Homo sapiens: one gene and its partner. The protein of the gene in region 1 interacts with the protein of each later gene in a pairwise test. Each region holds a gene or a part of one and is shown on either strand. Other genes may lie near its edges.

Region 1 (5,058 bases):
GCGGGTGGATCACCAGAGGTTGGGAGCTCAAGACCAGCCTGGGCAACATGCTGAAACCCCATCTCTACTAAAAACACAAAAATTAGCCTGGCGTGGCGGCGTGGGCCTGTAATCCCAGCTACTCAGGAGCTGAGGCAGGAGAATCGCTTGAACCCGGGAGGCGGAGGCTGCAGTGAGCCAAGGTCACGCCACTGCACTCCAGCCTGGGGAACAAGAGAGAAACTCCATTAAAAAAAAAAAAAAAGCAAAGGAATAATATACACAAAGTTCAAGTTAAGGTTTCATCTGGGGAGGAGGCAGAGAGATTGGCAGACACTCTCAGGCAAACCCAGAGTCCTTGGTGACAGCATGATCTTAAATGGATGGTCACACATGGGAGGTGATTTGACTGTTGTGTTTCACAACATACTTTACATAGACTTTGTATGCATCATATATCTTACAATAAATATTAATAAAGAGAAGAATCTCCTGTATTCCTACATCCCACAGAAACAGTGATTAAAAATAAACCCAATCACACACTCTTACCCCCTTGACATCCCCACACTCTCAGCCTCACCCCCATCCTACCCTCAAACACTCAGGGGAGCCTCTAATCACTGCCCTTCCACCTCCCACAGCATCCAAGGGACCGTGAAAAGCCCAGCACTGGGTAAGGGACAGGCACCACCCACCCAACCACGCCCCTTCATCCTCCATGTCTTACTGGTCTCCAGACCCTAAAGTAGACCCAAGAAGGAGCCCAGGTTCAGAAGAGAAACCAAGCCTTCCAGGACGGCAGGCAGAGGGGACCCCACGTGCAGACGTGGCTCAATTCCACAAGCCAACACGTGTCAGCCCCTGAGCAGAAACACCAGAGAAGGAGCCAGGCCCTGGCCAGACAGCGCTATGCAAATACACTTCCCTGCCACATCCCCCAAGACCGGGCAGGAGGAGGGGGATTAGGAGTGGTGATGTCCTGCGGAACACCAGGATGTCTCCCAGGGTCTCAGGGCCGTGGGACCTGCAGGCAGAGCAGGTGCTCCCACAGCCCCTGGGAGGGAGGGGTGGGGTTCCCCTTCATCCCCTCCCTGCCCCACTTAATGCCAGTGGCTTTCCCCAGCACTCACCTCTGCAGCTCCTTCAGGGAGACTGTGACCCGCAGGCCATGGCCCAGGACATAGAGTGCAGTCAGAATGTCCGCCCACTGCACCATCTCCCCTAGGGGCCCGCCCTTCAGGACCCGAGGGCTGAACACGTCCCCGGACTCCTCCGTCAGGAAGCCGATGTGGACCAGGATCTGGGTGGGCGGAACACAGAGGGTCAGCAGAGAGGAGCAGCAGCTCTGAGCCCCGCCCCCCCGGGGCACCGGCCAGGAGACCAGCCGGCAGCAGACCCTGTCTCCAGGCTGGGCCCCAGCAGGTGCTTTCCGGCACCAGAGTGACCAGATCGGGCACTGGGGACACGGGCGAACAAGATAGTCACGTGCTTGCCCTCATGGAGCTAATGTTCCAGATGGAAGAGGTAGACAACAGTGAACACAGACAAGAGATAATTTCATGAAATGATAAGGGCTCTGAAAGAAATAAAAGGGCAATGTGAGAGCCACGTAAATATCTACTGGGTGGAGGGAGGGAGGGAGGGAAGGAAGGAGGGAAGGAAGAATGGAGGCATGAGCTAACGAAGCTCCCCAGAACATTCCCAACTTTCCAGGCCAATACCATGACTTTTCTGCCTGACATGAACCAGATGTACACAGAATGCAGGACCTCTTGGGGGCTTGTCATTTGGTCCCAACCTTGAAAAGGGCCAGGGGCCACCACCACAGACATCTATCCCGACTCTGCCATCCCTACCCCTCTCTCCCTCTGATCAAATTCAGAAGCCCACTACAGCTTGTTTGAAGACCTATTCCATGCCCACTCAGAAGTGGGGGCCCTGAGCTTTCTCAGCTCCTGCACATGAGGGGGCAGGGGCCACGCACCTGCTTCTGGTCCCTCTGGGTGGCCCCCAGCTTCTGTGCCAGGCGCTGGGCAGCCAGCGCCCACTGGGCTGTGAGCCTCTTGGTCCGCTTCTTCATGAAGATCAGGGACTCCTTCCCGCTGCCCATCAGGTCCAGAAGGTGGGACAGGTTGCTTCGGAAAACTGCCTGGAGGGGTCCAGACCTCAGCTCTCTGCCCCTCAACCTGCGGCCACCATCATTCCCCGCTGGCCTGGGGACAGGGGCTGGCACCCTCCCATGAGGCTGGGGCCTGCTCCAGCTTCTCCTGCACTTTCTAAGGGGCTCATTAGCCCCCAAAACCAGGGAGCCCTGCCCGCCCTGTCAACACACCCTCCCCAGCCCAGCTCTAACCATGGGCCCCTAGCCCTTCCACGGAGGTGGCCAACCATAGCAGTTTCCAGGTTCCCAGCCATGACAGGGAGGCAGTGAGGGTGGTGGTCATAGCCAGGACTCCGATGGCAGGGGACAGACGTGGCCACCACAGCAACTATGCGCCTCGAACCCATTAATTCAATTGTAAACCTCAGATGCATCGTCTGTCAAATACGATCATACAAGGATGGCTGGGAACTTTAAGTGCAAATAAAGCATCTGGACACAGAAAACCCTCAATAAGTGACAGCTGCTATTACTACTATTCTAGTCCACTAAGGGGGCATCTCCAGGCCCCCCACCTGCCCTGCAAACAGGCCCAGCTTGGTGGCATCTCAAAGAAGGCAGACAGGCCTTGGCAGGCTGGCCTCCCGTCTGCCCGGTAGGGTGGGCTCGGACCTGCCCACACACCTGGCAAGCAGCTCAGTCTCATTCCCTCAGGACAGAGGTTTCTGTCCACTGTCCTTAAGAATGTCCAGCCACACCAGCCCCTCACCGGCCCACCCACCTCCCAGGCCCACCTGGACTTTGGGGAGGGGCTTGGGTGCCCTCTGGGCAGCCGTCTGGTTCCTCCAGGGCAGCGGGGGGCAGAACCACTCGACCTCACTGAGGTAGATGAGGAAGGAGCACTCGGTGCCGTCCACCCCAAAGAAGGCGTAGCAGGGGTCAGAGGTCCAGCGGGCACGCATCCACTGCAGAGAGGGCCAGGCTGGGCAGGGGGCTGCGCCAGCCCCACTGACCCTCGGGGACTCCCCCGCACGTGCACCCCCAGGGGTCCTGAGGTCAAGGATGGGGCCCATGTGGCCCACCCTACTGATGCAACAGGGGACAGGGCAGAGAAGAGATTGAACCAGGACCCGCCTGAAGGACCCCAGAGATGGCAGGGGCAGGACCACCAGCCCTCATGTCTGGAAAGAGGAGAGACTGGGAGAGAACACTGGCTCAAAGGTCTGGGGCAAAGAGCCAGGAGGCCTGGCTGTCTCCCTCTCCCTCTGGTCCCCGTCTCCCTGCTACCAGAGCAGGATTGGGCTAGAGGCCAAGGTCAGGGAGCAGCCTCCAAGGCGGCCAGGGCTGGAGCCAGGGCGGGATCCACCTGCAGTGATCCCAGATGGTCACCAAGGAAGGGGTCTGCGGCACCACCGCCCACCCCTTAGGGCGTTCAGAACCAGTGGGGAGCTGACTTCACGGCTGTGGACGACTCCTACAAGGGCAGACTTCATGCAGCCAGTGGTGGCCCCAGAAATGGGGCAGGAAGACTCTCCGTCCAGCTGTTGGCTGGGCCAGGAGGAGCAGGGACAGGGCAGCCAGGGCCACTCCTCTGAGTCTCTGGGGGAATCCGGCTGCTGGCGGTGACACTTGGAGATTTAATCATTTGCTGTGAGAAAGCACCGACACCTGAGGGAGACTCTTTCTGGGGGATTTGGATTGATGGGTGGGGTGGATGCACTGAGCAGAGAAGCTGTTTCCCTGAGGTTGGCCTCTGCCAGCTTGTGCCTGGGTGAGGGGCCAGGGCCAGACAGAGAGGCCCTAGCTGTAGACATCCCCACCCCTCAGCCCCAGGCCTCACCTCCACCTTCCCTGAGCAGTCAGGGAACTTGGGGTCACTGGGTGCCTCACACTGGTCCCGCCGGCCTTCTGACACTGTAGGGAGAGGTCACCTTGCTGAAGTCCCTGGTCCAAGGAGGAGCCCAGGGAGGGAGGCCTGCGTGCGGGAGGCAGCTTCCCACACAATCCGCTGCCAGGCTTTCCCACCTTAAAGCTCATCAGCCGCACAACCCACCCACAAGGTCAACCCGGGCCTAGGTTGCCCCCGGCCTCCTCAGGGGGTTCAGATGCAGTGAGGAGCTGGTGCGAACAGCCACTCAGCAGCTGCCTGGATGGGCAGACCTCATGCACCCACCCGAAAGCATCCCCAGCGTTTTCTGAGGAGGCAGAAATGAGGTTTGCAGCCCCCAGCTCGCTGCTCCCCACATCACAGGGACTGGAGGGGCCGCCGAGGGACCCTTCCCCAGGTGGCCTCACTCCTGGAACTGTGGACCCCAGAAGCTGAGACTCCAGGGACCTCCTCTGTCCTCAGCGCCCTCCTGCCGGGTCGAGGGAGTGAACCCCCAGTTGTCCTGCTGAAAGCCTAAACTGGGGCCCCGAAGAGCCAGCAGAGCTGCTGTCAGGAGAAGTCGGCCACACCCCAAGTGTCCCACCCTCCCAGGGCCCACCCAGCACCCAGTTCATTGGCCCCCTAGGGGTAGAGGGTACCCCCGCCCCCTGGCACCCACCCTTGCTGTGCAGGAGCAGACTGTGGCGCAGGATCTGGTCCACCTTCACAGCGATGTCGGAGACGTTCTGGGCAATAGCCTGGATCCGCTCCATGAGGCCGGCCCCAGGGGGCATCCTAAGTGGGAAAAGCCAGAGGTGAGCCACAGAACCGGCCGGGGTGACCTTCCCATGAGGGTCCTGCCAGTAAGGCCCACAGGCAAAGGCGGCAGGCTCTGCAATGCCCCAGGCTCCCAAACCCTGACCCCAAGCAGACCAAATGGTGGGGAGTGAATCGGGTGAGAAGATGGAGCTGGCAGCCCACCCCATCCAGTACACACATTACAGACATACGGGAAAGCCCATATCTGCACATGTTGGTCACAACTGCATGTTGTGCCCACAACTGCATGTGTGATCATATCTGCAGAGAGCCCTTTAGTGGACATCCC
Region 2 (3,060 bases), on another chromosome or scaffold:
TACTGGGGACAGACAGATGGTCTGAGACAGAAAGGCAGCCAGGGTTAAAGGAGGCACAAGGATGGGCTGACCACTGCTGTCTGGATGCCCTCTCAGCCCCAAGCCTCAGGCTGTCATTTCCATCGATCATCATTGATCACCTTTCATCACCCAGTTGGGGTCAATAAAAGCGATTGAGCCTTCTGCCCTGAAGCCTCTTCCCCTCCCCCACCTGCCAAGCACCCCCACTGGGGGCAGTCACTCATCCTGAGCCCTGAAAGAAAAGCGGGCAGGCACTGGAGCCAGGCTCTGTTTTGAACCTCGCCTTAGCTAGGAAACAGAACCCAGGTTCCCAGAACGCCCTGCATCTCTTACATACCCACCCCTGTCAACCAGTCTCTTCTGAGGACCCAGCAGTCCTAGTCCCTCTTCTGACCCCAACCACACTTCAGGGACAGGGGAGATCCAGTAAAGTAAGGATGGGGCTGGCGGAAGGAAGGGCTCTCAGAGGCAATTACTGGCCAGCTCACAGGGAAAACGAAACTACCATTAATGTGCTTGGTTAATTACGGGCAGAGACGCTGGGAGAGGGCCTCGGACCACAGGAGCCAGTATATGTGTTGAGACAGAATGGGGCGGGAGGACCTACACATGTCTACAGCCATGCACATGCTCCTTCTCCACAGCACACCCAGCCAAGCATCCACCTAGAACCCCCCACTCCACCCACTGGGGAAGCCAAACCCTTTACCCCAGTCTGGGCCATGCCAAAAGGTCCAGGGTTCATGCCCAGGAAGAGTACTTCCTTGGGGCCCTGGCAGTAGCGAGTCACGTAGTTGCGATGTGGCTCCCATGCATACTCCACGGGATTGTAGATGATGCCCACAGGCTCCGAAAACTGCAGCTGGCTCAGCTCAGCATTGAGCCGAAGCTCCTCCTCCAGGAAGCTCTCAGCCAAGCTTCCAGGGCAGGGCTGGGGCTCCATGAGGGCACCTGCAGGCTCATGGATGGACCCCAGCAGGAAAGCCTGGGGCATATGTCCATGCCGCTGTCACCTGGGAAAAGAGATGGACAGAAGCCCCATCAACCCTCAGCCACAGAGTAGGAGGGATCCATGCTTGCCAGGGCCCCCACTACCATTTCCTGGGCTCAGAAGGGACCCTAAGAGACCATGTCAGTCATCTACCAACCACCAAGTAGGACTGAACTCATCTCAGTTCTTGGTAATGAAGGGCCCTTTCCCTCCCCACTTCCATTATCTGTCCTCTTCACATGGCACCTGGTGAGGATAAGCCATAGCCACCAAACATCTCCCACTCCAAATCTCCTTTCCATCAGGCATAGGTCACTAGTTCCTGGGCTATGCCGAGCACATAGTAGGTTTTCAATAAACATTTACTGGTGGCATCCTTTCAGCACCTTTAAGGTCATCCTAAAAAAGAAAAGCCCAGCCAGAATGGACTGTTCTGGAAAGCACGGCGCTGAAGAATGAAATGCAAGTGCACAGCCACAGCCCAGAGACCTGGGAAGGCTAATTACAATAGCTTCCAGGTGGTGAGCGACTGCTCTGCACCAGGTACACCTCATTGATCCTCACAACAATCCCATGAGGTGGGTATTACTGCTCCCCTGTTATAAGTGAGGACACTGAGGCTTAGCAAGATTAAGCAACTTGCCCAAGGTCTTACAGTTAGTAAGTAATAAAGCTGGATTTGGTTGAGCCCAATCTCTCTGGCTCAAGGCTATGCTTTAACCACCCACGCCATCTTGCCTTAGATGGTTTGATCAGCCACCCTGCTAATTCTACAACCCCCTAACCCCAGCCTAGCTTCTTTCCCACACTCAGGAATACCGAGTAGGATGATTACAGACTCCTCATAGAATCTTACGAGCTACACAACCATGGCCAGAGCCTCAGGTTTCCACCTTCAAATACAAAGAATAATAATATCCACTTAATAATGTTGACATAAGGAAGGCCAGGCATGGTGGCTCATGCCTGTAATCCCAGCACTTTGGGAGGCCAAGGCGGCTGAATCACCTTAGGTCAGGCGTTCAAAACTGGCCTGGCCAACATGGCGAAACCCCGTCTCTACTAAAAATTACAAAAATTAGCTGGGCATGCTGGGCGTGGTGGCTCAAGCCTGTAATCCCAGCACTTTAGGAGGCTGAGGTGGGCAGATCACCTGAGGTCGGGAGTTCGAGACCAGCCTGACCAAAATGGAGAAACTCCCACCTCTACTAAAAATACAAATTAGTCAGGCATGGTGGTACGTGCCTGTAATCCCGGCTACTCTGGAGGCTGAGGCAGAATCATTTGAACCTGAAAGGTGGAGGTTGCGGTGAGCCAAGATCGTGCCATTGCACTCCAGCACGGGCAACAACAGTGAAACTCTCTCTCAAAAAAAAAAAATTAGCTGGGCGTTGTGGTGGGCACCTGTAATCCCAGCTACTCGGGAGGCTGAGGCAGGGAGAACTGCCTGAACCCGGGAGGCTGAGGTTGCAGTGAGCCAAGATCGTGCCACTGCACTCAAGCCTGGGCAAAAGAGCAAGACTCCATCTCAAAAAAAAATAAAATAAAAAATAAATAAATAAATAAATAAATAAATAAATAAATAAATAAATTTGCCGGGCGCAACAGCTCATGCCTGTAATCCCAGTACTTTGGGAGGCTGAGGCAGGTGGATCACGAGGTCAGGAGTTCAAGATCAACCTGGCCAACATGGTGAAACCCCGTCTCAACTAAAAATACAAAAATTAGCTGGGCATGGTGGCACGTGCCTGTAATTCCAGCTACATGGGAGGCTGAGGCAGGAGAATTGCTTGAACCAGGACCTGGGAGGCAGAGGTTGCAGTGAGCCGAGATTGTGCCACTGCACTCCAGCCTGGGCTACAGAGGGAGACTGTCTCAAAACAAACAAACAGACGTAAGGATGGAATGAGATGTTATGTTTAGGTGAAGGGAGAAAAGAAATGGGAGAGGAAGAAGAAAGGGAAGAGAGAAGGGAGGTGGGAGGAAGGAGAAGGGAGGGGGCAGGAACATGACAGCAAGCTTTGTAAACTGCAAAGGCCATTGCTTCA

Evidence for each region. The genes of interacting proteins can lie anywhere in the genome.
Region 2: the proteins of MGAT5B (region 1) and SMUG1 interact in a two-hybrid assay, tested with the Homo sapiens proteins (one large-scale study listed by BioGRID).

What each region holds. Positions count from the first base shown.
Region 1 is NC_000017.11:76,902,242-76,907,299, reverse strand, and holds part of MGAT5B (alpha-1,6-mannosylglycoprotein 6-beta-N-acetylglucosaminyltransferase B), read right to left. Parts: intron 4,746-5,058; coding exon 4,630-4,745; intron 3,998-4,629; coding exon 3,924-3,997; intron 3,049-3,923; coding exon 2,878-3,048; intron 2,132-2,877; coding exon 1,967-2,131; intron 1,283-1,966; coding exon 1,113-1,282; intron 1-1,112. UniProt on the Homo sapiens protein: Glycosyltransferase that acts on alpha-linked mannose of N-glycans and O-mannosyl glycans.
Region 2 is NC_000012.12:54,182,926-54,185,985, forward strand, and holds part of SMUG1 (single-strand selective monofunctional uracil DNA glycosylase), read right to left. Parts: intron 1,035-3,060; 5' UTR 1,016-1,034; coding exon 731-1,015; intron 1-730.